7 linked regions of the Homo sapiens genome follow. The gene in region 5 interacts genetically with the main gene of each other region. Each region holds a gene or a part of one and is shown on either strand. Other genes may lie near its edges.

What was found.
Region 1: changes in PTAR1 (region 5) and TAPT1 are lethal when combined (synthetic lethality), as found in Homo sapiens cells (one study listed by BioGRID).
Region 2: of PTAR1 (region 5) and GOLGA5, changing one suppresses a phenotype caused by changing the other (phenotypic suppression), as found in Homo sapiens cells (one study listed by BioGRID).
Region 3: changes in PTAR1 (region 5) and NAA30 are lethal when combined (synthetic lethality), as found in Homo sapiens cells (one study listed by BioGRID).
Region 4: changes in PTAR1 (region 5) and ZFAT are lethal when combined (synthetic lethality), as found in Homo sapiens cells (one study listed by BioGRID).
Region 6: changes in PTAR1 (region 5) and TMEM131 are lethal when combined (synthetic lethality), as found in Homo sapiens cells (one study listed by BioGRID).
Region 7: changes in PTAR1 (region 5) and SPTLC2 are lethal when combined (synthetic lethality), as found in Homo sapiens cells (one study listed by BioGRID).

What each region holds. Positions count from the first base shown.
Region 1 is NC_000004.12:16,174,472-16,177,971, reverse strand, and holds part of TAPT1 (transmembrane anterior posterior transformation protein 1 homolog), read left to right. Parts: intron 1-1,017; exon of another isoform or gene 1,018-1,288; intron 1,289-1,743; coding exon 1,744-1,853; intron 1,854-3,242; coding exon 3,243-3,302; intron 3,303-3,500. UniProt on the Homo sapiens protein: Plays a role in primary cilia formation. May act as a downstream effector of HOXC8 possibly by transducing or transmitting extracellular information required for axial skeletal patterning during development. May be involved in cartilage and bone development.
Region 2 is NC_000014.9:92,800,805-92,804,304, forward strand, and holds part of GOLGA5 (golgin subfamily A member 5), read left to right. Parts: intron 1-3,500. UniProt on the Homo sapiens protein: Involved in maintaining Golgi structure. Stimulates the formation of Golgi stacks and ribbons. Involved in intra-Golgi retrograde transport.
Region 3 is NC_000014.9:57,393,586-57,397,085, reverse strand, and holds part of NAA30 (N-alpha-acetyltransferase 30), read right to left. Parts: intron 335-3,500; coding exon 211-334; intron 1-210. UniProt on the Homo sapiens protein: Catalytic subunit of the N-terminal acetyltransferase C (NatC) complex. Catalyzes acetylation of the N-terminal methionine residues of peptides beginning with Met-Leu-Ala and Met-Leu-Gly.
Region 4 is NC_000008.11:134,482,532-134,486,031, forward strand, and holds part of ZFAT (zinc finger protein ZFAT), read right to left. Parts: intron 1-3,500. UniProt on the Homo sapiens protein: May be involved in transcriptional regulation. Overexpression causes down-regulation of a number of genes involved in the immune response. Some genes are also up-regulated.
Region 5 is NC_000009.12:69,732,512-69,736,011, forward strand, and holds part of PTAR1 (protein prenyltransferase alpha subunit repeat-containing protein 1), read right to left. Parts: intron 1,744-3,500; coding exon 1,639-1,743; intron 1-1,638.
Region 6 is NC_000002.12:97,810,949-97,814,448, forward strand, and holds part of TMEM131 (transmembrane protein 131 precursor), read right to left. Parts: intron 3,441-3,500; coding exon 3,287-3,440; intron 3,194-3,286; coding exon 3,023-3,193; intron 1,802-3,022; coding exon 1,691-1,801; intron 1,608-1,690; coding exon 1,473-1,607; intron 285-1,472; coding exon 180-284; intron 1-179.
Region 7 is NC_000014.9:77,554,138-77,557,637, forward strand, and holds part of SPTLC2 (serine palmitoyltransferase 2), read right to left. Parts: intron 3,010-3,500; coding exon 2,904-3,009; intron 1,383-2,903; coding exon 1,163-1,382; intron 1-1,162. UniProt on the Homo sapiens protein: Component of the serine palmitoyltransferase multisubunit enzyme (SPT) that catalyzes the initial and rate-limiting step in sphingolipid biosynthesis by condensing L-serine and activated acyl-CoA (most commonly palmitoyl-CoA) to form long-chain bases.

The sequences.
Region 1 (3,500 bases), on a different chromosome or scaffold from region 5:
TTTTAATAAATTATCTTGCCTCCTTTGTTAGTACTATGGCAGATAATATGATAAATGGAGCACTTGCTTTTATTGATGAATTCACCATTTTCACTCTTGTTTTAGGTTTTCACTCTTTTTTTAGGTTTATTAAAATTTCTTAAAAAAAAAAACCAACAAAGTGCCATTTATGGAAGGTTGCTCTAAGTTCTCAGGGTCATGAGGAACATAAAAACAGCACTAGCCATTTTGTATGCCAGGCACATTGCTGTGCACCATTATCTCATTTAGTTCTCATAATAATTAAGTGTAGACACTTACTATCCTTAACCTTGTGGTTGAGGAAGCTGGAATTTAGCTCATTAAGAAACTTGCCCTTTGCTAGTGATGTGGATTAAAAAAAAAACTTGTCCAAGGTCATATAGCAGTTAGTAGCAGAGCTTATCGGCGAAAGAGGTCCCTTGATTTCCAAAACCTGATGTGATGCCAGACTCACAGAAGCTGTCTACACTGTCAGCCGGGATAGCCCAGCTGTGTCATCTCCATCCCACCTTCCGGCTACCTGAGTCTTGAGTTGCTGTGGGTCCTTGTCAGCATTTCTCCCTATCTTTTTCTTGCTGTGTCCCACTCTTACATTCTTTTCCAAGTTCTTAGGAGGTTGTCTGTAGGTGTGTTTCATCAGGTACCTGGTACTGAATTGGCATTAAAAAAATTTTTTTATTGATGCATAATTTGCATAGTTTGGGTGTGCAAGTGATAATTTAATGTATTCATATAATTTGTGAAGATCAAATCAGTGTACTTGGGATATCCATTACCTTAAATATTTGTCTTTTTGTTAGAACCAGTCAAATTCTTCTCTTCTACCTATTTTGAAATACACAGTAGATTATTGTAAACTATGGTTACCCTACTTATCTATCTATCACTAGGTCTTATTTGAATAGACATTTAAATGTCATAATGGTGAGCAAATATATCAGGCTAACATCTGTATGACAGTGAAACAAAGGATTGATTAATATCTTTACATTGTAGTGATCAAAGAAGGAGAAGACTGCTCATCTACAAAGACTACAGCACATCTCTTCTAGCTATTTACTGTCACATTGAGGCAGCTATGGAATTAAAGGATTTTCTAAGGAACCTGCTTAATCTAGTCATCCCATCAGCATGTCAGCACGTAGGCTTCGTGAAGGCAGAGGCTCTCTGCTAAACCACTGGAGCCCACATGTAAAGCAGTTCTTGGCACTTAGAAAGTACTGAATAAATATTTGGGTTTTTGTTGTTGTTGTTTGAGACGGAGTCTTGCTCTTTCGCCCAGGCTGCAGTGCAGTGGCGCGATCTCAGCTCACTGCAACCTCCACCTCCTGGATTCAAGCAATTCTCCTACCTCAGCCTCCCAGGTAGCCGGGAATACAGGTGCACGCCACTATGCCTGGCTAATTTTTGTATTTTTAGTAGAGACAGGGTTTCACCATTTTGGCCAGGCTGGTCTCAAACTCCTGATCTCAGGTGATCCAAAATGCTGGGATTACAGGCGTGAGCCACTGCGCCGGGCCTGAGTAAACGTTTGTTGAATGAAGTATCCTTTAACTTGATACAGTATAGCTCTTTTGATAAAGGTTATAATTGAATGCTAGTTCATCATTTACTGAAAATACTACAGTTTTGTTCTAGAGATTTCATATTTCTCTGGTAGCCTGTGATATGGATTCTGTTCATATTAAGATATTTCGTTGTTTTTCTTTTTTCTATTTACAGATCATCTCTGGGTGTTGTTTCCAGATGTCTGTATGGTAATTGCATCAGAAATTGCCGTGGATATTGTAAAACATGCCTTTATTACTAAATTCAATGACATTACTGCAGATGTATGTATTTTGATATGCACTTCAATGTTTAAAGTTTACTTCTGTTGCTTAATTTTTAAAAGTTGTAGAATAATAGGAGTTTGTTAATACTTTAAGGTCAGAATTGTAATTTTAAGTTTCTAAAAATTATTACACTATTGAAAGTATTCTGTTTTAATATTAGGCAATGATAATTCCATATTCTTGGGGTAGAAGTATAGACCAGCCAGTAGTCGAAGTCACAGTGTCACTAACTCAAAATCATTCTGATCAGTTAACACTGTCATAATCTGTTTAAAGACTTTAAAATCACATTGTTTCTATTTTAAAACTTAGACCATCAAAATTTTTCTCTCTGGCTAGGTTTTTAAAATATTTTATATTTAAAAGTTGATTTTTTTCCACGATTATGAATAGGTTCCTGCTAAGTTTTAGAAGACGAGAGCCTACATTTTTCTGGTGAAAGTGTTTAAACTTTGAGAAATTTGTTTTATGTTCTAACCAGATGTTCTGGATAATTTCTAGAAATAGATATGTGGCTATAGATTTATTGCATATAAAACATAAGAAAGTTTCCTAATGTAGTTCTCATTCCTGTCTCAGTCCCAAAATAAATAATAGTTCCACAGTTTTCTAGATTTTACTGGGTAGTACTTTTAATAACAGTCTCACAGTAATATTTGTTTTGTTTCAAAAGGCAATTATTTAAAATAAAATGCAGTTGCAACAACTGTGATTCAATTATGAGTTTCTGAATGTTTTAATATACTTAAAGTAAATACAGTTTTGTACTTTTTTGTAAAGCATTGATAAAGTAATTTCACCATTTACTTTCTCAGCTTTCTTAATGCAGAATGATTCCCTTTTCATAGGATCATTTATTTAGCATCTGAAGTCAAAATTAATAGGCTTGATTGAGACACTTGTGCACTTTTTAGTGGTAATGATCATTCACAAGTGCCTTCATATTTACTATGTTCCCTAACTTAGTTTTATGTCTTTTTCAGCATTCATTTTTCTCAGAAGGCATTATTATGGTTAGACAAACAGTAATTTTTTTAAACTATTCATTTAATTTAAAATTTCAAAATTATTTTATATACATTACACTACTTAAAATAGTCACTTTTCCCCAAATTCTAAACTCTCAGGATCATAGTCGTTGGATATTTATTCCCCTTTAAAGAAAAACCTTTAGAAGATCTATGAATGTTAACAGTTCGGTGGAATTGAGGTTACATTTTACCTTTACTGTAGGAAAACAAATAAGAAATTATGCCCAGATGTCAGCTTGGTTATTAGCACTTGTTCCTGGTTAATTATTAAATGTTTTTATTAATAAAGTTGCAGTCTTTCCACATTATATATTTTTACTGTATTACTTGATATTTCATTCTTGTTTGTTTTTAGGTCTACAGTGAATATAGAGCCAGTCTTGCTTTTGACCTTGTTAGCAGCCGACAGAAAAATGTGAGCATTTATCAAGGGCGTAGTCTGAAATTAACAAAGGCATAGTCTGAAATTAACTGAATAATGATTAATTTAGCATGAAATATTAACTAAAGGAAAGCTACATAAACTGCCTACTGATCTCTATTCTCAACACTAAATAAACATTTACAAATTAAGAATAATAGTAATACTTAACATTAAGTAGTATATGCTCTT
Region 2 (3,500 bases), on a different chromosome or scaffold from region 5:
TATTTTTGTACTTTTAAAGAAAGCAGCTTGCATTTAATTAGAAAGAATGGACCTAAAGGGAACCTCGTTGTCAGGGAAATGAATTAGAACTGGTTATAATACACAGGAGTTATAAAAATTGTTTCTCTTGGGTAGGACCTCTCAACCTTGAGACTTGGTGTTTTGGGCCAAATTAATTCAATAGTGTGGGAAGCCCTCCTGTTCTTTGTAGGATGTTTAGCAGCATCTCTGGCCTCTTAGCCCATTAGGTGGTAGTAGCACCCCCAATTGTGACAACCAACAATGTCTCCACAAATTGCCAAATGTCCCTTGCAGGGCAAAATCATCCCAGTTGAGAACCAATGTCCTGAGATGCCTAGAAATGTGTAGAAATGGGATTGCTGAGCTGTAGGGTTTAACAATGTTCAGCTACACTAGTAATGCCAAAGTGGCTTTCTGCAGAGGTTGTGCCAATTTATACTCTAACCAGCTATGGTTAAGAACTTCTTTTGCTCCACATTTTCACCAACATTTTTTATTTTCAATTTGACTTTTTACTTTTTGCTGATCAGATTTGTCGTTGATATTATTTCCTTCATTACTAGTGTGGTTGAAGATCTTTTCAGATATTTGACTATTGAACTTTCATTTTCTGGAAGTGTCAAGTCTTTTTTATCAACTTTTTTCTGTTAGATTATTTGTCTTTTTTCTTCTTGATTCATAGACATTCTTTATATATTCTAAATTCTAAATTCTTTTCCTCCTCCAGTTTTACCTTGGTTTTTCCCCTCCCCTCTGTCTATGGCATCTCAATGAATAGAAGTTCTTAATGTAGATGGCATGTGGCTTGTGTTTTTTGTGTCTTGGAAAATCTTTCCTTACACTGAGATCATAAAGATATTTTTCTGTATTGTCTTCTATAGTGTGCGATAGGCATTCAATTCCCTTTTTCTTTTTTTTTTTTTTGCCATAGGGAAATCAGCTATTCTAGCATCATTTATTGAACAGAGTCTCTTGTCCCTACCAATTTGCAGTACCACCTGTCTTATATATCAAGTATTCATTAGTGTGTTTCTGGCCACTTAATTCTGTTTTATTGGTTTATTTGTGTATCCTTGTGCCAGTGCCACCCTGTTTTAATTAATGTAGTTTTATGTGTCTTGATAACTGATAGGGTAGCTTCTTCCACCTTGTGGTCTTTCTTCAGAAATGTTTTGGCTGTTCATGGACCTTTCCACTCCTGTATGCATTTTAGGATTTGCTCATCAAGTTTCACAGAAACTCTGTTGGTCTTTTTATTGGGAATTAATTGCTTCTATATAGACAGTTTGGTGAGAGTCAGCACTTTTGCTATACTGAGTTTTCTTATCCACCAATGGGATATAATTTCAACATATTTTGTAGTGTCTTTCATTAAAATTTTATTGTTTTCTCCATAAAGATCTTATATACTTTATGTTAGATTTATTCCTAAGTAGTTTATATTTTTTGAAACAATTATATGTGGTATTCCTTAAAATGTTTTGCTTTGTTATTGCTGGTGTATTTTTTGTTGTTTTTTTGTGTGTACATACATAGCAATCTAGATGGCTCTTAATCTTCATGTTTTTCTGGACATAAATTTAGATTTTCAACAACACAATTATCTGTGTATAATGACAGTTTGTTTCTTCTTAGCCCTTTTATCTTTTAAAAAATCCTTTTCTTCATTGGCTAGGACTCAACGACCAGTTTTGTATCTTGTTCTTTGTCTTAGAGGGAATACTTTGTTTCACTAAGTATGATTTTACATTAGGTTTTTTATAGTTTTTTTATTTGTTTAAGGAAGTTCCCATAAATGTCTAGTTTGAGGTTTTATCATGTTGAATTTTAGCAATGTTTTTTCCTCTACCCTTGGAGATAATATAGTTTTTCTTCTTTAATATTAATATAGTATACAAATCAATTTATTTATTTTTAATAAATCAATTTATTTATTTATTTTTAATAGAGATGGGATCTTGCTGTGTTACCCAGGCTGGAATGTAGCGGCTATTCACATGTATGATCATAGTGCACTGCAGCCCCAAACTCCTGGCTCAAGTAATCCTCCCACTTCCTCCTCCCAACTCACTGGGATGCAGGTGCACACCACTGCACCTAGCTCCAGCTCCAGTTGATACTTTTAAATATAAAACCAAACTTAACTTTCAGTTTGCTAATATTCCCTTTAGGATTTTTGCATTTATTTAGTTAATTTAATTTTTATTTATTATTATTTTTATTATTTTGAGACAGGATCTCACTCTGTCGCCCAGGTTGGAGTGCAGTGGTGGGATCTCAGCTCACTGCAGCCTCAATCTCCCAGGCTCAAGCAATCCTCCCACCTCAGCCTCAATAGTAACTGAGACTGCAGGCACACACCGCCATGCGTAGGTAATTTTGTTCATTTTTTGTAGAGACAAGGTCTCACTATATTGCCAGGCTAGTCTTGAACTCCTGAGCTGAAGGGATCCTCCTGTGTTGGCCTCCCAAGTGCTAGGATTACAGGCATGAGCCACCACACCTAACCTTTTGCATTTATTTTATAAGCGAAATCGGCCTGCGATATTGTTAGGTTTTAGTATTACAGTTATATTAGCCTTATCAAATGAATTGGAAAGTATTCCTTCTTTTTCTGTTGTGTTAATTAATTGGTGTAAGACTGAGATTATTTATTTCCTGAACGTTTGCTAGAACTCTGTGCTAAAACCATCAGGACCTGGGGTATTCTTACTGAAAGGTTTTAACTATTGATTCAGTTGGCTTTTCATTTCTTCTTGAATCTGTTTTTGGTAAGTTACGTTTTTTTCCCCAAGAATTTGTCAATGTCATACACATTTTGAGGGGTTATACTTATTTAATTTCAGGAAAATAATGTAGGGGTCACAGCTGAAACTTTCAACGCAACCAAACATTAGTTATTCATACCAACCCTGCAAAAACCAATGCTTGATCATGCATACTGTGTGAAGAATATCAGTATCTGGCATATATTGAATCCTTACCCTGTTTCTGGCACTGCACTAAATGCCTGCTTTTTAAAACAGCTTTAATGAAGTATAATTCACATGCAATAAACTGCACGATAAGTATTGTGCAATTGATAGATTTCAGTATCTTGTACATTTTAAAATTTGATGGCCTAATGTTGTTTATATCTGTCCCAGGGAACCACTTTTGGTTATGCTGATCCTCTCTAGTATGTTTATTTCCTCTTTTGTTAATTTTTGCTTTCTTTGGGTTTGTTCTGCTGTTTTTATAGTTTTTAAGATGGATATACAACTCATTAGTTTTCTTCCTTCCTGCCTTTCATCTTTAATGTAACCAAGGCTATAAATTTCCTTCAGAATACTGCCTTAGATATCATCCCACATTTGGATATATACTTAATTTATTTTTTGAATTTTAATATTTTATTTTTTATATTATTTAAAAATTTTTTGTAGAGACGAGTTCTCACTGTATTGCCCGGGCTGGTCTCCAACTCCTGGACTCAGGCA
Region 3 (3,500 bases), on a different chromosome or scaffold from region 5:
AAACTGTCAAACAAAACATTAATAAAGAAAAAATTCATTTTAAGAACTTTTTAAAAATACCATTTTGAAATTAAAAATTAAAACCCGCCTTAATTTTCTTCCCTTAGTTTCTTTCATTTCTACATACTTACATTTAAGTCTTTTATTTCAAAACACAACAAAAATGAAAATAGCTTAGGCATTCTTTCCATAAAATAATATTTTTCTTACCAATGCCATTTCTCCTGTATTTGGAATCCACGGCTAACATGGCTATATAACCTCTGCGGAACATCTTTTTGTGCATATCCAACTTGCAAACGATGGCACCTACACACTCCTCCCCTACCATGGCCTTAAAAATAAACAAACAGTTATGAAGAATACATTGCCATCAGGTACTGCACAATTATCCAGAGAAAACAACAACCAACCATTGGTAAGCATTTTCGACGGGGGAAGATAATGGGAACTCTTGCAAGACAGCAGTCACAGAAGTTTCAGAAATCTAAATCCCCTAACTCCTTTAAATGTTCCAGTGTTAAAATTTCTCAATATTCTTTAGAACATGAATTTTTTATGCTTACTATTAAAGCCTAGGGAAAAAAGACAAGATTCCACAAGGTAAACATTCAAGTACTTTATAAGATTACATATGAGGTGCTTAAAATCACAATTATTTGCAACAAAGACCTAAGGTTCTGGAAGGGGAAATATGCAAAAAAAAAATGATTATAAAGAAAAAGTCTATTCATTAGGACATAAAATATTGTAAAACTTGCCCATCAGCAGAATGTAAATTTAAATATATTCAGTTAAATTTAGTAATAATGGCCAGGTGCTGTGGCTCATGCCTGTAAACCCAGCACTTTGGGAGGCAGGCGCAGGCAGATTGCTTGAGCTCAGGGGTTTGAGATCAGCGTGGGCAACATGGCAAAACCCTGTCTCCACCAAAATTACTTAAATTAGCCAGGTGTGGTGGCATGCACCTGTAGTTCCAGCTACTTGGAAAGCTGAGATAGGAGAATGGCTTGAGCCAGGAAGGGAGAGGCTACAGTGAGCTGAGATCGTGCCACTGCACTCCAGCCTAGGTGACAGAGTGAGACCCCATCTCAATAAAAGAAAAAAATGAAAATAAATTTAATAATAAAGTTTTAGTGAAAGCCAGATATAATACATATTTACACCTGAATGGTAGATTTCGATCAGGAAAAAAAAATTAAAAATTTTCAGAAAAAGCACAGTTTATAAGGTATTGCTTAGACCATACCCAAGAGGTTTTTGTTAATATATGTAAGTGTAGCATAGTCTCATTTTTAGGATACTCCTGATAGTGTGGATAACTGTCATAAAGCTCTCAGAATATTTATAGTTCAAAATCAAAGCTTTATGTTAAAAGCTTTAATTTTACAGAAATTTCTATTTTAATAAAAACGTACAGCTTTCCAGAGTATTAAAAGCTACATGTTAAATTCTAATCATCCCCCATTTTCATTAAGATTTCTAGTGTTACCATTGAAAATGTTTTTCAAAAATTCCAATGCTGATAAAAAGTTCTAGTAACACAGTATTTCTGGTAAATATAAATAGGGCAGTATCTCCAACTGTTTAAATAATGTGTCAGTAAGAAGTCTGTTTTCCATAAATTAACTTTCCAGAAGAAACTATTTCAACAAAAGCAGAAATGAGTCAAAAAACTAATAAGTAATGTCCAATTTATAATTAATACATATTTTAAATTTGTGACTTTTTTAGTCTGTCATTCTGTAAATTGATTAAAAGGCCTTTTTTTAACTGTGGAGAAATCTTTTCAGCAAGATAATTCTAATCCATTTCATGCAAACCTAAACTAGGTCGGAAAAATCCTTTTGAAGGAATATGAAATTCAACAACCCACGCTAATTCATTTCTGGTTTATCACACATTCCAAAACTATTTTGGGTCAATAAACCTCTGAAATTGTTATTTCTAATTTTTTCCCTCACAATACATCAATCTTTTAAAAAAATTTTTTAAACAAAGACCTGAAGTATGCACAAAAATCGCCTCGACCAACTCTGAAAGCTTTTTCTGATTTGAAACTCACTTCAAATATATGTGCGTATATACAGACACGTATAAATACATACACATACATAAAATTATCACAGACCAAATGGTATATTTAAAAGGGCCAGAAAAAATTTTGGCCTGACCTCATAAGCCAGGCTCAGGTGAAATGAAAACCTGTATTAGATTGATGATACAAACCTCAGAATAGCTACACCTTATATAAAACTATCCAAAAATGAGGAAAAATTAAAACCATTAAACACAATACAACTGGACAGTACTTTCAATCTGAACAGGAATTTCAAACAAATCTTTGTCCTTTGAGCATGGAATAAGCAAACAAAATATTAAATTAGTTCATTCTTAAGACCTGATTTCTTCCTAATTTAGAATCTATAGGAGCAAAAATCAAGCTGTATACATCATCTAAAAAGCCCAATATATCATACACCATTACGATGACATTAGTAGTGAAGACCAATGCTGCATTTTTTTTTCCTGATAAACTACTCATGAATATGTGGTACATTTACAGGAATCACTAAATTGCTTGTCAATTTTTCCAAATAAAAGCTCTGCATATACATTTGGAATTCACGCTATTAAATGTATTTTTTCAAGGATGGGAACTGAAAAATCCCCGGCAAGATTAAGACTTAACACTACAAGGCCAAAGGGTTGTCAGTCTATAAAACTATGAAAAAAATAAAGTGAGAGATTCCCAAATTCTAGAACACTACAAATAGAAAACTGGAGGAAGCCAAAAAGTTAAATTTAGAACAAATAAATGGAAGTACTATGTTACATTTGCTGAGAGTAAGTTTAAGAACTTCAAAAAGATACCAACAACTGAAAATGTTACTATGAAAACAGGTAAAGATAAAATGGTTAAGTACAGAGTAACTGAAAGTGTCTCACATTTGTCCTTTTTTTTTTTTTTTTTTACATCTTTTACAATTAGGAAGAATCATAATAAGCTATCATTTTTATTAATCAAGTATTGGCAATTTTGTAAGGTTCAACCCCATATACTCCATTGACCCATTACAGGTTATCCACGGAAAACGGAACATTTTGGAGGTTTTTAATCTCTTGAGATTGATGTAAGGGCAACTGTCCCTTGGTGAAGATAACTTGGTGACACAATAATCTTCACTGAATGGATCAAGGGTATGTCATTTTTCAGGTTCTTGTTTGTTACCATAATGAGAGGCCAGGAGAACTGGGTTCTAGCTTTACCCTTCCGACGGTAAATATCTGGAGATTGAAACATTTTAAGTCACTTTGGTTCTTAACTTCTTTTCAATCAAAAAACAAAACAAAACCTACCCCTCTGTCAGTAAATATCTGGAGATTGAAACATTTTAAGTCACTTTGGTTCTTAACTTTTTTTCAATCAAAAAACAAAACAGAACAAAACCTAAGTTGGGCTAGATTATCTCTAGGATGGCTTTCAGTTCTAAAAGGAT
Region 4 (3,500 bases), on a different chromosome or scaffold from region 5:
TCTCATTAGTCCTCTAAATATTTATTTATTTGCCCACAGTATCTTTTCTAAGTATTAAATCTATTTAAAGATAACCTTTCTCCATTTATTTTGTTTTGCTTTTTCAATTTTTAGCCTCCAGGGTTTGTCCAACAGAATCCCCATGAAATTCATCCACTGCTAATTATCAGAGTACAAAAAAGTTTTCCAATGTCATTCTTTGGGCTTAATTCACCAGAAAAAGCGATGGAGGCAATGGTGATGTGTATTTCCCAAGTCCTGCGAAGAGCAGGCTTCCTGGTGTGCACAAATGTGACAGGGAGGCACGCTGTTGCCCTGTCGTGTTACTGAGCGTCCAAGACACGCAGGGTTCCTGAAGGTCCCCTGCAGCCTCCTGTTGGGCCTCCTTTACACTCTCCCCAGTGTTCACAAGTGGCTCTGCTGGCCCTGCAGACGCTGCCCACACAGATGTCCACGTCACAAAAAGCTAACGTGTAGAGAGGACGAAGGAGGGAGAGTGGGTTGCTTTACAGAAGGGGTTCATAGGGCTTTCTGCAGAGTGCACCCCCTTTGTGCATTTCATGGTATATGATCACACTCTGTTTGCTTTTATGCAGTTTTTACAAACCATGCACCTCCTTCCTTGCTCCCACGGCACCCAATATCCACCCAGCCATTTGCAGTTTACTGAACATTCTCCCATGCCTTGTCCTGATTCTTTACACACAATGTCTTATGCCTTGGGCATTTGTGTTCCCATTTTACAAATGGGGACACTGAAGCTCCTCCTGGCCTCGTGACTTATGTAAGGTCAAAAAGCCAGAAAGTAGCAAAAGCTGGAACTTAGTCTGGGTGGTTCAGAGACCTCCTTCAGCTGGTGTAGTGTGACAGCCACTATCAGGATCCCATGTTATGGGTTGATATGATTAAATTATCACTCTTTACTCCTCCTGATTAGTCTCAGGCTGGCTGTAGAACTCTCAACCACTCTCTTTGTTCAAAATAATCACTCTAGTCGCTTAATCTATTAGCACAGGCTTAAAATTGTTCTTCACCACAGAAATAATATGGCGCTCACAGTGTCATTATCCCCTGAGATGAGTACTCCATTTTCCCCAAATGCCGTATCTAACACATCTATCAGAGAAATTAGCAGCAGCATAGATAGCTCGATAGAAACCCTTAACCCCTGGGACGCAGAAATCATTCACTGAATCAGGCACCGTGTTCTGCTGTTCCGCTGTCTCCAGTGTTCTGGAGTCTGGACAAGATCACTGTCAGGACCGGCACTTTGCTGGGCTCTCTTCGTGCTAAAAGGCAGCTTCCCCTTGAGACCCCATGTCTTCCTTGGCTTTAACCCATCGTCATCCATTCATCCAGCAAACGCTGATGGATCCTCTGCGGTGCGCCAGGCAGTGGCTACGGCTCTGGCTGCCTCATTGTCTCACTTTCTTCCTACTCCCCTGCCTGTTCTGCCTTCTCCTTCTCCTCTAGCTCCTCTCCTCACTTCCTTCGTAAAACCCATTCCTCTCAGGTTAAGCTTTCTTCCCCCAACATTTAAGAAAATCCCAGAAGTTCCTCTAGCTCAGGACACCCTCCTTAAGGAAGGTGGGTCCTGCATTGCTCCCACAGGGCTCCAAGGGTGCCCCGAGGAGCCAGTGCACAAAGGCTATTACAATCCACCTCTGCACAGATCTCCCCAGAAGCAAGCACAGCACCGGCTCCTCTGTGCCCAGTCCAGTGCCACGCTCTTGGTAGGCACATAGTAGGTGATGGTGATTTAGGCTGGTGCAAAAGTAACTGCAGTTTTTGTACCAACCTATAGCTGTAGAACTGCCCACATGTAGAACCTGTAAGTGATGATAAAGAGAACCATCTGGAGCAGCCATGGACTCCAGGGCCAGCTGCTGCCTGCCCTTGGTTCAAACTCTGTCTGGCAGGAGCCCCCCAGATGATCTGAAAGTAGGGAAGACGGTGCATTGTCTATGGAGGAGAGTCCCTTTTGGCTCCAAAAGTCCCAAAGGTCCAATCACCTTATTCTATGGAAGGGAAGTCAAGGCTCAGAGAAAATAAACTACCCAGGGCCACACTGCTGGAAATAGAGCACAGATTTTTTGACTTCTAGTCTGCAAAATTCCCCAGTCTGCATGAGGCAACTTCACACCAAGCCACACAGCACTTTGGTTACTGGGAGAACAGAGCCAGAATGTCTAGCATGGCACCTGGGCAGGGGCGAACGCCAAGTAGATTTTCCCCGGAATAACAATATTATTTATAATAGTTGTAGTGATTATTATTATTTTGAGACAAGGTCTCACCCTGTCACCCAGGCTGGAGTACAGTGATGCAATCACAGCTCACTGCAGCCTCAAACTCCTGGACTCAAGAGTTCCTCCCGCCTCAGCTTCCAGAGTAGCTGGGACCATCCTTGGATGAACAAAGAAAGCAGTAAACACACAATGATGATGATGATGGAGACATCATCATCAGGACAGATCTAGGGCTCTGAGATTACAATCTGGAATGATAAGAAGTGCTTGTTGTGGGTCAGGTGCTGTGTGAAGAGTCTACGTGTATTAGGTACTTAGTCTTCACGGCACCCTAAGAAGTCTTAGTGTCCTAGCTTTAGAGAAGAGGCAGACTCAGGGGAGGATGACAAGCTGCCCTGGGGGGCTCTGCCCACCCACTGGGTCCTGGGGAGTTATGTAGTTGCTTTCCCCCTGCTCCGCCTGGCCTCTGAGCCTGATGGTCCCAGCAGCCAGGCCACTGTGCACAGCTGTGGGCTTGGCCAAGCAGGAGGCTGCAGTGTCAGGGTCCACACAATCTTCTTGATTTTCCCATTGGCCTCCTGCATTTGACCCCAGCACAGTCTTTTTTCATTCCTCTCTTTCCTCTCTAATGAGAAGACACTGATGGACTCCTCTGTCAAAGTACCCTCTGCCTGGGAAACATGTTCTCAAAAATGCCCGGAGGCTGGCTGAAGCAGGAAAGACAACCCCTCCTCATCTGACACACGTTTTCTGGAATCCTTGACACTGATGGGGAGGTGTCTTGCCAAACAGGAAGACTGTGGGGAAGGCAGTGGCCCGTGGGGACACTTGACCTTAGTGTATAACCTGGCCCACAGCCTCTGAAACCCAACTCCCTAACATAGGTCTTTCTGTGTCAGAGGCTGCACCAACACCCCTCCCCAGGACATTGAAACAGCCCCAGGACACATTCAAGGACATCAAAATATGACAAAGACTCATTAAGAGGAGAGAGCTGAATCTTATGGCTGAATCCCACAGAGGTAGCAACAAGAAAGGGAAAATGTTCTTACTAGCTGGGTATTTAAAGTAACAATTGTTTAAACTGCTGCTGGAATACGATAAACACCACAAATTCGCATCACAGCTTTCAAAACAGGGTGCGAAGAACCTCCTGGTGCCCGAGTTCCCCACATGCCTGTGCAGAGGGCTGGGGCCGCCTTCCTGTTCAGTCCTGACAGGGGATTGGAATTTCCAGGGTTTCATCAGACC
Region 5 (3,500 bases):
TGTTGTTTATGATGATACTAATTTAGCAGTATGGATGAAGGGTGGAAAATGGATAAACAGGAAAAAAAAAAAACTTTAAAATCTGTAATACAGAGAATGTCATTACTTCTAAAATGACAATCCCAAAACTCCACTTGGCCAGGAAATGTAAAGGCAATTGGTGTGTGTGTGTGTGGTCGTGGTGAGAGGTCATAAATTAATGGCTGATAAATATTATAAGGAGTCATGATTCACATCTTTAAGTATATATGCATGCCTCACCCTATGTGCATTTGTTTGCAAACAAGAAGCTGCATTCTGATAGCTTTCATTCAGCAAAATTCTGTATTATAGCATAAAATCTGGAAGGTAACAAATATAATTCATTAAACCATTAAGAAGGTGTCAAAATATCCTTATCCACAAATTCTCCCTTTGTCTGTTTAAGATTTGCATTAACATGTATTTACATAAAAAACACTAAATAGTGTTTCGAGCTACTTAATGTGTTTACTTTGTACCAGTAATTTACTTATATAAAAGCATTTTTTAGACTAAAGATTTCAAACCCAAAGGTACAGGAAATTAAGTAAGAAAACTCACTTTGTCATTTTAAAATAATGGAATTTCTTATTTAACAACAAAATATTGCTTGATAAAAAAAATTAGACAAGCCAAACTGATGGATGCATATTTAACAGTTCCTTTCCCCTGCCACCATCCCTTTCCAAACCCCCATACACACAGTCATATACCCTTCTGTGGTATACTATCTCAATTTCTGGTGATGAAGAAAATATAACTGACTATGTGGTTTGGAAGAAGCTGACCTGCAATGTTAACTAAAGGCACGATTACCACTAAGACACCTGGAACGGACATAAGATCCTAAAAATGCCCACGATTTAAGAAAAATTAGAGTGGCTTAATAAACTGAGAATTTCAGAGTGACTTCTTCATTGGTCCTGACTAGCAAGCCCACACCATCCCATTTTGGTCAAATAAGAGTAGTTACACAGGGTCCAAGAGGAAGATGGTTCCAGGTGGCCAGGATTTTGAGAGTCCTAAAGTGCATTCTGGCTATCTGTCCCATGCTTTTAACCTAAAAATGTTCTTTGTATGTATGGATTTTAGCAACTTTAGCTCAGCCTACACAGCATTCGCTTCAGCTGCCCTCAGCTTTCTCTGTAAGTTAATTTTAATAACCACAACCATCACCACCAACATCTTTACCAGGAAAACAACCAAATGCTTTTAAAATCCATATTGCTCATTACAGTTGAGTATCTATAAATGCAATGCCCACAACTGCTTCAAAGAGTTAATAATAGCTAACATTTATTGAGTATTTAATATGTGCCAGGCACTGTGGGAGTGTTACATGCATTAACTCACGTAAACTTGACTGTTAACTATATGAGACAGGTGTAATTATTATTCTCATTTTACAAATGAGAAAACTGAGGCTTGGTGAGTTAAGTAATTTCCCATGAACACTTAGGTAGCAAGTTATATAGCTCCTAGATTTAAATGTAGGTAACCTGACTTCAGAATTCATGCTCTGGAACCAATAAGTAACCTTGCCTCTCACATGTCATGTTTCTTTCTCCAGCCAGTCTGAATCCTAAGTAAGAGTACTATGTTGTAAATTAACCACACCTGTGAATCCATGTTTCTGGACTCTTTGGAAACTTGGTTAAGGCGAGTTTTCCCAGATGTAAATCCTTAATTGGATTTAAAGTGCCAGAGAGGATCAGCTCTTTCCTGTAAAAAAAAAAAAAAAAAAAAAAAAAAATTAAACATTACTTTATCCTTATATCCAAAGGTTCTACATGGCTTTTAATATAATCTCATTGTGAAGCGAATGTCTAAGAATTTTAAAACAAAAAAAGAAAGAAAAAAAGCCCAAGCCACTCTGGGATATAAAACACTCATAAATGTGACATGCAGTAATCAAGAATGTATTCTCATAATCCCAATATAACAAACTAATAAGCAGAAAGAGAAGCTCTTAAATCAACAGATTTTAACGATTTTTAAATCTTAACTATTTGCGTGAGGGTAAATGGGGTTTTCTGGCCTATCTCATTTCCAAAAGTTGTGAGACCTGATATCGTACCTATAGGGCCAATCCAATACCAGCCAAAATTGGTCTAGTTTCCTAAATAGGACTTGACATGGTCTATTTCATTACAAAACCACACATACAACAAACACAATATGGTTGAGATGTAAGGGAAAAAAAAATCATTCATGGAATCACTATTCTAACCAAATTACTATTTTTTATTTTTGAATTTTCCCTTCTACTTTTCCCTATCACACATACATTTTAACATATAATTTTACATCCTGCTCTCATTATATCTTAAGAATTTCCCCATGATTCTATATAATCTTTGTAATGAACATTTTAAATGATCAAATTAGTTTTCATTTAGAAGCTATGCTTTTCCCTTCTTGTTAGACATTTAGGTTGCGTCAAACTTTTTGTTATTTTAAAACAAATCTGGGCAGGGGAAGCTTTGTGCTTATAACTTCTTTCTTTTGTATTCTTACTTTGGATAAGTTTCCAAAAGAGCTATTAACAAGGTAAAATACTTACATGACCCTTGATATACGAGGCCATTCCTTTTTAAAATATTAATATAAGCAGCAGAAGTAATAGCAATGTAATGTTTTGGTTGTTTTTAAAACTGTTCAAGCCCAACCAAAGCTTCAATGCAATCAGTTGTCCCTTGGTATCTTGTGGGGGCTTGGTTCAGGACCTCCCAAGGATACCAAAATCTGCGAATGCTCAAGTCCTTGATATAAAATGTGTTGCCATATAACCTACACACATCCTCCCATATACTTCATATCATCTCTAGATTACTTATAATACCTAATACAATGTAAATGCTATATAAATAGTTGTTACATTATTCAGGGACTAATGATAGGAAAACAAAGTCTGAACATGTTCGCTACAGAAAGCAATTTTTTCCCCAAATATTTTCTATCTGCGGTTGGTTGAATCCATGGATGCAGAACCTACAGATACAGAGGGCCAACTATATAAAGAATGTCATGCAAGAGCTTTCTATACCTGTTTCTCAGGTAAATACAATTTACATTTAATTTCTCAGGTAAGTTTTTGATAAGTGCTGATATTACACTCTCACTGAATTCTCAATGTATCTATAATTTTATAATAAAATCAGATCATTTGTTATTATTTATCTTAAAATGTCCTTCCTGTGTAGGGCTGATTATTCATTTATTTTAGAGAAGTTTAAGCCAGAGAAAACCAGAATCCAGCTCTTATACCATATCTACTTAGACGGACTTAATTCCTAAATACCACAATACATTTTCTTTCCAACAGTGACATACTATTTATAAAGTTTTATTTGATAAAGAAAACAACTATTTTCCTTTCAATGTTCAGGAAACCAATTTGTCATTATATATATATAATATATATATAAAATATATATTTTTTTCTTGCAACAGCCAATTGCTTTTGCAGTCTTGGATTA
Region 6 (3,500 bases), on a different chromosome or scaffold from region 5:
AAACTATGAGCCTATGAACATCAATATTCTATAAACTATTCTCGAAAGCTCAGTTTTTAAGGTATGAAACTGGTAAACTGTAACTCTGAGTAAACTTAATTCTTTGGTTTCATAAAGACAAGAAAGGACTGACTTATTCAGAAAAACCCCACTGCCATGAATCCCCATAAAGTCCTTACCTCATAGTCTGTTGTGATCTGGATGGCTCCATCATGAATCCCCTCTAATTTTTTTGCAGTAAGTTTGACTCTGAAGACTGCAAAATAGCCTGAAGCTAATGTTACCTGTAGATAGTAGAAATGGTATCATTCATTAGCCTTGTTAGTTGAAGTTTCCTATTAAAATGGACATGAAGGGTGTAGCGATAAAATGACTAACAAATCCTAACATATACCAGTATGACACTGAATTACCATATCACTGTGTACAAATATCTCAAAATAGTGTCCATCCCTTGATATTTCTCTACTACACTTGTTCCATGGGCCACTGAAAAAGCTGGTTCCTGAAAGAGGGAGGGGTGTGGTCCTCTTGCTAATAAAGCTCCTCACTCTTTACCCATGGACCTGTATGGCCAAAGGGGCTGGAGCAGAGGGACACAGCCTTCCACCAACCTTTCAGGCACACTGGAGCCACAATTGTATACACAGCTGGCTCTGCTTCAAGCTGTGGATGTCACTCTGTAATGTTAATATTCATATCTTCAGGGCAGCTGAGGTCAGATATAACAAAACACCAGACCTATGGCATTCCACGGAAACGTGTTTGTCAACACTCTCTGTGTATAAGGACACTTGCTTTTCCTTTTGTAAAACTGCCCCAAGAAATTCTATTCTAACCTGCAGATGAGATTATCTGATGCTCCTTCTCACAGATTGTGATTCTAATTCTTTTCCCAGTAGGTATAAACTCCAAGTTCCCCTTTCAGTACTGGTGAGTGCTGAAACTAATAAATTTGTTTTCTCTTGTTTAGCGCTCTCTGACAACCAACTGTAACATGTTTATTAGACAGGTAAAAATATGTGGGCAGACTCACAGTGATCAAACAATGTTTGCCTCACTGATACTGAGGCAGTATCTGGACAGACGTATTATTGCATAATTGAAAATATTTTCTACCAATGTTCAGGGCCATCTCTTTTTCCCAGTAAACTCAATGAACACAAGGTTAGTTTAGTACCCATGGGAATCTCTCCTGTAATGACACTTGTGTTACAAAAAGATAATTAAAAATTTGTGTGTTATAGAACTTTTTATGACAAGGCAGAATTAAACCCCTTTGGGTTTCAGTGCCCTCATCATAAAAATAGGGGGTTGAATTACATTACCTATAAGGTCCTTTTAATAGCAAGTAACCAACACTATTATGAACTGCATAAAAATAATAGTGATACATGTAGCATAGCAATGATCTTCCACTTGCAGTTTAGACATCCATCTTACTTTAAGGAGACAATAGAAAGTTTACTTACCGATGATTGATCTGATAAAGAGGATTTTTCAAACTCTGGCAGGCTTGAAATTATTGTAGTTCTATTGCCTCTTTCCACAGCTACAAGTTCTATTGATAAACCGTCTCCTATGATATGCCAACTTTTTATAGCCAACTTTAAAAAAAGATATGAAAATGATTATCACAACACAAGCATAAAATCCTTAAATGTGATTTAGAATAAAAACAGGTTTTTACCTCAATTGGATTGCTGTTTATAATTGCAAATAAAATATTACTTGCTTCTGTAGCACTCAGTACTCCAAAATCTATGAAACGTTCCTCTATTTTGGGGGGCAATACAAAGTACTGGAAAGATATAAAAGAACCAGATTAAAAAAAAGTCACATTGATCTAACAATATTATGAAGAGAAAGTAACTATATTAAAGATGTATTAAAGTTCCCCCCAAAATTAGCTGGGCATGGTGGTGTGCACCTATAATCCCAGCTACTCGGAAGGCTGAGCTCAGGCAGGAGAATCGCTTGAACCCGCAAGCCAAGATTGCACCACTGCACTCCAGCTTGGGAAACACAGCGAGACTCCATCTAAAAAAAAAAAAAATTACAGTTCTATGCTTTCCTATGCTTTTGTATATATGCATAAAACCACACATTTATACGACATAGTTGAGGGCTTTGTATGACGAAAGTCTTTTGAGTAATCAGAAATGAAAACAGCCATGGCTTCTGCTGAGTTGCTATTCTTCCTCTGAGGGCACATGAAAGAGGCAGGAAGCTAAACTACTAAGAGAGGTTTAGTGGAACCCTAGGGGATCGGGCAAAAAGCATGTGGTCTCAGCAAGCATCACCAATGATCACTGAAACAAAATAACTGAAGCAGGAGCGAGACATTACTGAAGGTCCCTCCAGCTCTAAAATTCTAATCGATGCCAACTATTTAAAGGGCTACATTTCTAGATGTCCTAGCTTTCTTTTTATCTTTCCTAACAGTTTTCTCTCTTATCTAAGCTTCTTTCATTGATCACTCTCAAGATAGCTTTGTTTGGAATTTTTCCCCCTGCTTATTTTCTGTACCAGGAGTACCTTCATTGTTTCCTTCTGTGTCATATATAATCTTCCAACTTTGCGTCTTTACTACCTTATTTTCTTCTTTACTATCTGATTCTCTTCTTTGTCCCGATATTTCTTGGTTTTGATCATCTCTTCCCTACGTATATCCCTCTTCACCTTCCTTGTATTATTCTTTTTCTACCTATCATTTTTCTATTTAGTTCTTTTCTATATTCCCCATTATTACAATAGTTTAAAAGCATATCCAAGAGAAAGCAGAATGTGGAAAAGATCTAAGTAGAGACTGTAACTAGAGAAGTCAACTGTATCACAAGAGAGAGCTGCCAGAAAAGGTAAAAACTAGTTACCTGGAAAGGTAAAAACTGACTAGGAGAATTAGATCAATTTGCAGAGCACAAATAATGGCAAACCGTATGTAACACGACTGCCTAATAAGATCTGAAAACATTAAAGGTGGGCAGGGAGTTTAAATGTTAAAGATGGATAATATACTTACATCTAAAAAGCCTGTGTATACCCGCACGGGTAAATGAAATTTAGAAGCATTGGTAATAAGTAAAATGTTGTTATCAATGTGCATGGATGATGTGGAAGGCATAAAAAGCAGGGTAAAAATGTATCCTGATTCATTAGGAAGAATTAAGACTGGTTTGCTGAAGTTGTGAACCTGAGAAATGACAGAAGAGAAAAAAAACAAAGTGTCAGCATCACCTAGTTGGTAGACCAGGAAAATTAAAAGTATGAGGGCTCCTGGACATACTTTAAACATTGTTTTGGCTTCTTCTGGTAGCAACACATCGTGAATGAGGATCGCAAAACTGAAAGTGTTAGTAAGGTAAATTGGCCTTTCCACAGGATCAGCAGGGCTGTCTCGGATGTGAAATAATGTTGCAGCATGATCAAATCCCAAATAACTATTAAAAAAAACAACAAGAACAAAATAAATCATTTTTATTTCCATGTGTTAATTTAAA
Region 7 (3,500 bases), on a different chromosome or scaffold from region 5:
GAATATTGAGTGGTGAAGCAAAATTAAGAACATTTATGAGCACCTCCTCTGTGCCATATACAAATACCTGACATACATTATTTTTTCCCTAACATTGCAATCAACGTTTAAAAATAACAGCTTCATTGTGATATAAGCCACATACACAGAATTCACCGTTTTAAAGCACAATTCAGTGGTTTTTAGTATATCCAGAGTTGTGCCACTTTTACCACTAATTTTAGAACATTTCCATAACCCTGAAAGGAAACCTCATACCCATTAGCATTCACTTTCCATTTCCCTATCCCCTCCGCCTCCGGCAACTACTAATCTACTTTCTGTTTCTATGCTTATTCTAGGTATCACATATTTTAAAACATGCAATATGTGACTTTTTGTGACTTTTTTCACTTACCATAATGTTTTTAAGGTGCACCCACGTTGTAGCATGGACATATATTACTTTTTAAACCCTTACTACAATCTTACAAGCTGGGCATATTTATCTCCATTTTACTGACAAGGAAACTGGGAGGTTAAATGTTTTCCCTGAGGTCTAACAAAGTAAGCCGAGAAATATTCAGACCCAGGCCTCTGTCTTTATGGTTCACCATTTCGACCACACCACAGATTCTTACCTGCATCAAAATTCACCGTATGATTTTTTTCTGACTACAAAGACCCAGAAAAGGCAACTTCATAGTTTAAAAATTGAAAAATACAATGCTTTGTAGTACCCCACAGCTGGCACAACTTTTTTGCTTCCTGTCTCCATGTTCACTCATGATATATTTGTGTCCAAGGGCAAGGTGACCTGCTATTCCCATGGGCTCCCATGACAACCCCACTGTTTTTGAAACTGTGAGCACAATGCAAACCCAACAGAAGGCTGGGGCGGGCAGGGAGCACCACTGTGTGTTCTTTCACACAAGAGGGTATTCTATATCTCAGATCAGCATGTAGCTTAGAAAGAAGCTCAAATAAGAAAACAACAAACAATGAACAGAACCAGCCTTTAGTTCAGTGAGGAGACATTAGAGTCACTCACTGGTATTATGAGCCTAAACCAGAGGCAAATTTGCGGACATCCCAGTTCAGGGCCCCATCTGCTAGGCCTGAGGTACCAAATCTAATTGCCAGTGACTTTATCTCTAATCGCTCATTCTCATGGCTCGTTTACCTTCTTGCCTCCAATATATCCTCCAGAAGCACCAAAACTCTTTGTGAACGTTCCCATCATAACATCCACATCCTCGGGATCCAGGCCAAAGTACTCCACCACACCCCGGCCTGTGGGGCCCAGGGCGCCAATGCTGTGAGCCTCATCCAGATACAAGTATGCCTTGTATTTCTTCTTGAGGGCAATCACTTCAGGAAGACGAACAATAGATCCCTCCATGCTGGCAAAACATGAAAAAATATATATATACACATATACACTGAGACTTTTTAAATCAAAATTGGGAGTTTGGCACTTCATTATTATTGAGTTTACTGCTTCTTTTTTTTTTCTTGGGACAGAGTTTTGCTCCATTGTCCAGGCTGAAGTGCAGTGGCATAATCTCGGCTTACTACAATCCCTGACTCCTGGGTTCAAGCGATTCTTGTGCCTCAGCCTCCCAAGTAGCTGGGACTAGAGGTGCCCGCCACCACCACGCCCAGATAATGTTTGTATTTTTAGTAGAGATAGGGTTTCCTCATGTTTCCCAGGCTAGTCTCGAACTCCTGGCCTCAAGTGATACACCCGCCTTGGCCTCCCACAGTTCTGGGGTTACAGGAATAAGCCACCCTGCCCGGCTGAGTTTATTGGGTTTTAAATGGTCTGACAACTGTATCTGTGGCTTAAACTGACAAAGGTAGATGAAGCCATGGCAAGGCAAAAGACTAGGGGAAAGAAAACTGGACTTTTAAAACAAGCACTGGCTGGGCGCGGTGGCTCACACCTGTAATCCCAGCACTTTGGTGGGCTGAGGTAGGCGGATCACTTGAGGTCAGGAGTTCGAGACCAGCCCGGCCAACACAGTGAAACCCCGTCTCTACTAAAAATACAAAAATTAGCTGGGCTTGGTGGCACACACCTGTAATCCCAGCTACTCGGGAGGCTAAGGCAGGAGAACCGGGAAGCGGAGGTTGCAGTGAGCCGACATCCCGCCACTGCACTCCAGCCTGGGTGACACAGCGAGATTCCATCTTAAAAAAAAAGCCACCCAAACCACCAAAAAACAAAAAACAAGCACCAAACACAAGCAATCTTAATTCACGACAAAAATAATTAAGGTCACAGCAGATTCTTCTAAAGCTTGTAATTACAGGCAACATGAGACTTTGCATCACGTTGCACAGGCAATTAAAATGACACAAAAGAACAAAAAAAATTAGGTGGTAAAAATACGTGTAAAAGCTGTAAAGGTTAACCAAAATAAAATATTTCTTTTTAATTTTTATTTATTTTTTACAGAGACAGGGTCTCACTATGTTGCCCAAGCTGGTCTCAAATTCCTGGCCTCGAGCGACCTCCCACTTTTGCCTCCCAAAGTGTTGGGATTACAGGCGTGAGCCACTGCACTCAGCCTAAAATAAAATATTTATTAAAATTAAATGGTGTGTAATTTGTTTTGACATATTAAAATATATATTCCAATTCTTGCCCCTACATATAGGTTCCCTCTACAAACTAGAAAAATAAAAGACTCAAATAGAAAGGGGATTTGGTGACCATGTAGTATTATGGAAAGAATAACGAAGAACTAGACAAAAAGACTTCTGTTCTAATGCTGACTCTGTTTCCAGGTATTTTAGCGACTTATAAACACTGTCTCCTTAGTTTCCAGAGGGGGATAGACTAATGTTCCCTTCAGTTAAAAAATTCTATGACTTCATGGGGCCAAGTCACAAAGGTAAGAATAATAAAGCAGGATTACCTATATATTCCTTCCACAAGGATGAGAATTTTCTTCCAGGGCCTTCGTGTCCGAGGCTGACCATAAACAATGGCATCTTTCAATAGCTTCTCTAGGCTTTGCATATCTACAGAGCACAAAAAAGAACAGTTATACCGCATCTTCCTCTTTCCTAACTTTATTCCGGAAATGCAGAGATATATTTCTCATTCAGAAACCATGCCTCAGATAGCAAAGGACATAATTAGAGTTGGGCAGAAAAAAGCAGGGCAAAATAGGTGAATTATTGCCACCTTGAATTGAAATCCAAAATGTAACAAATGTTCAAAACCATCGAAACTTGACTAAAGGACGGTGGTGGCTAACTCAGTTCATTAGCTTCCTTATAAAATGACCAGTGTCTCATGTTAAATACCCTGCCATTAAGTTAGCTTCTGTGTGTTTATCGAAAAATACAGAATCAAACTGTATCTCTAATCCCAGTGAGTCATTCGGAAATAAATGCGTAAAAAAGACAGAGCGAGAGAGTGTGAATAAACCATCACAGACACATACTCCTCCTAAAAAAACAAACGCAAGGCGTAAAAAAACTTCACAGTGCGTGCTCCATTTCCTTTC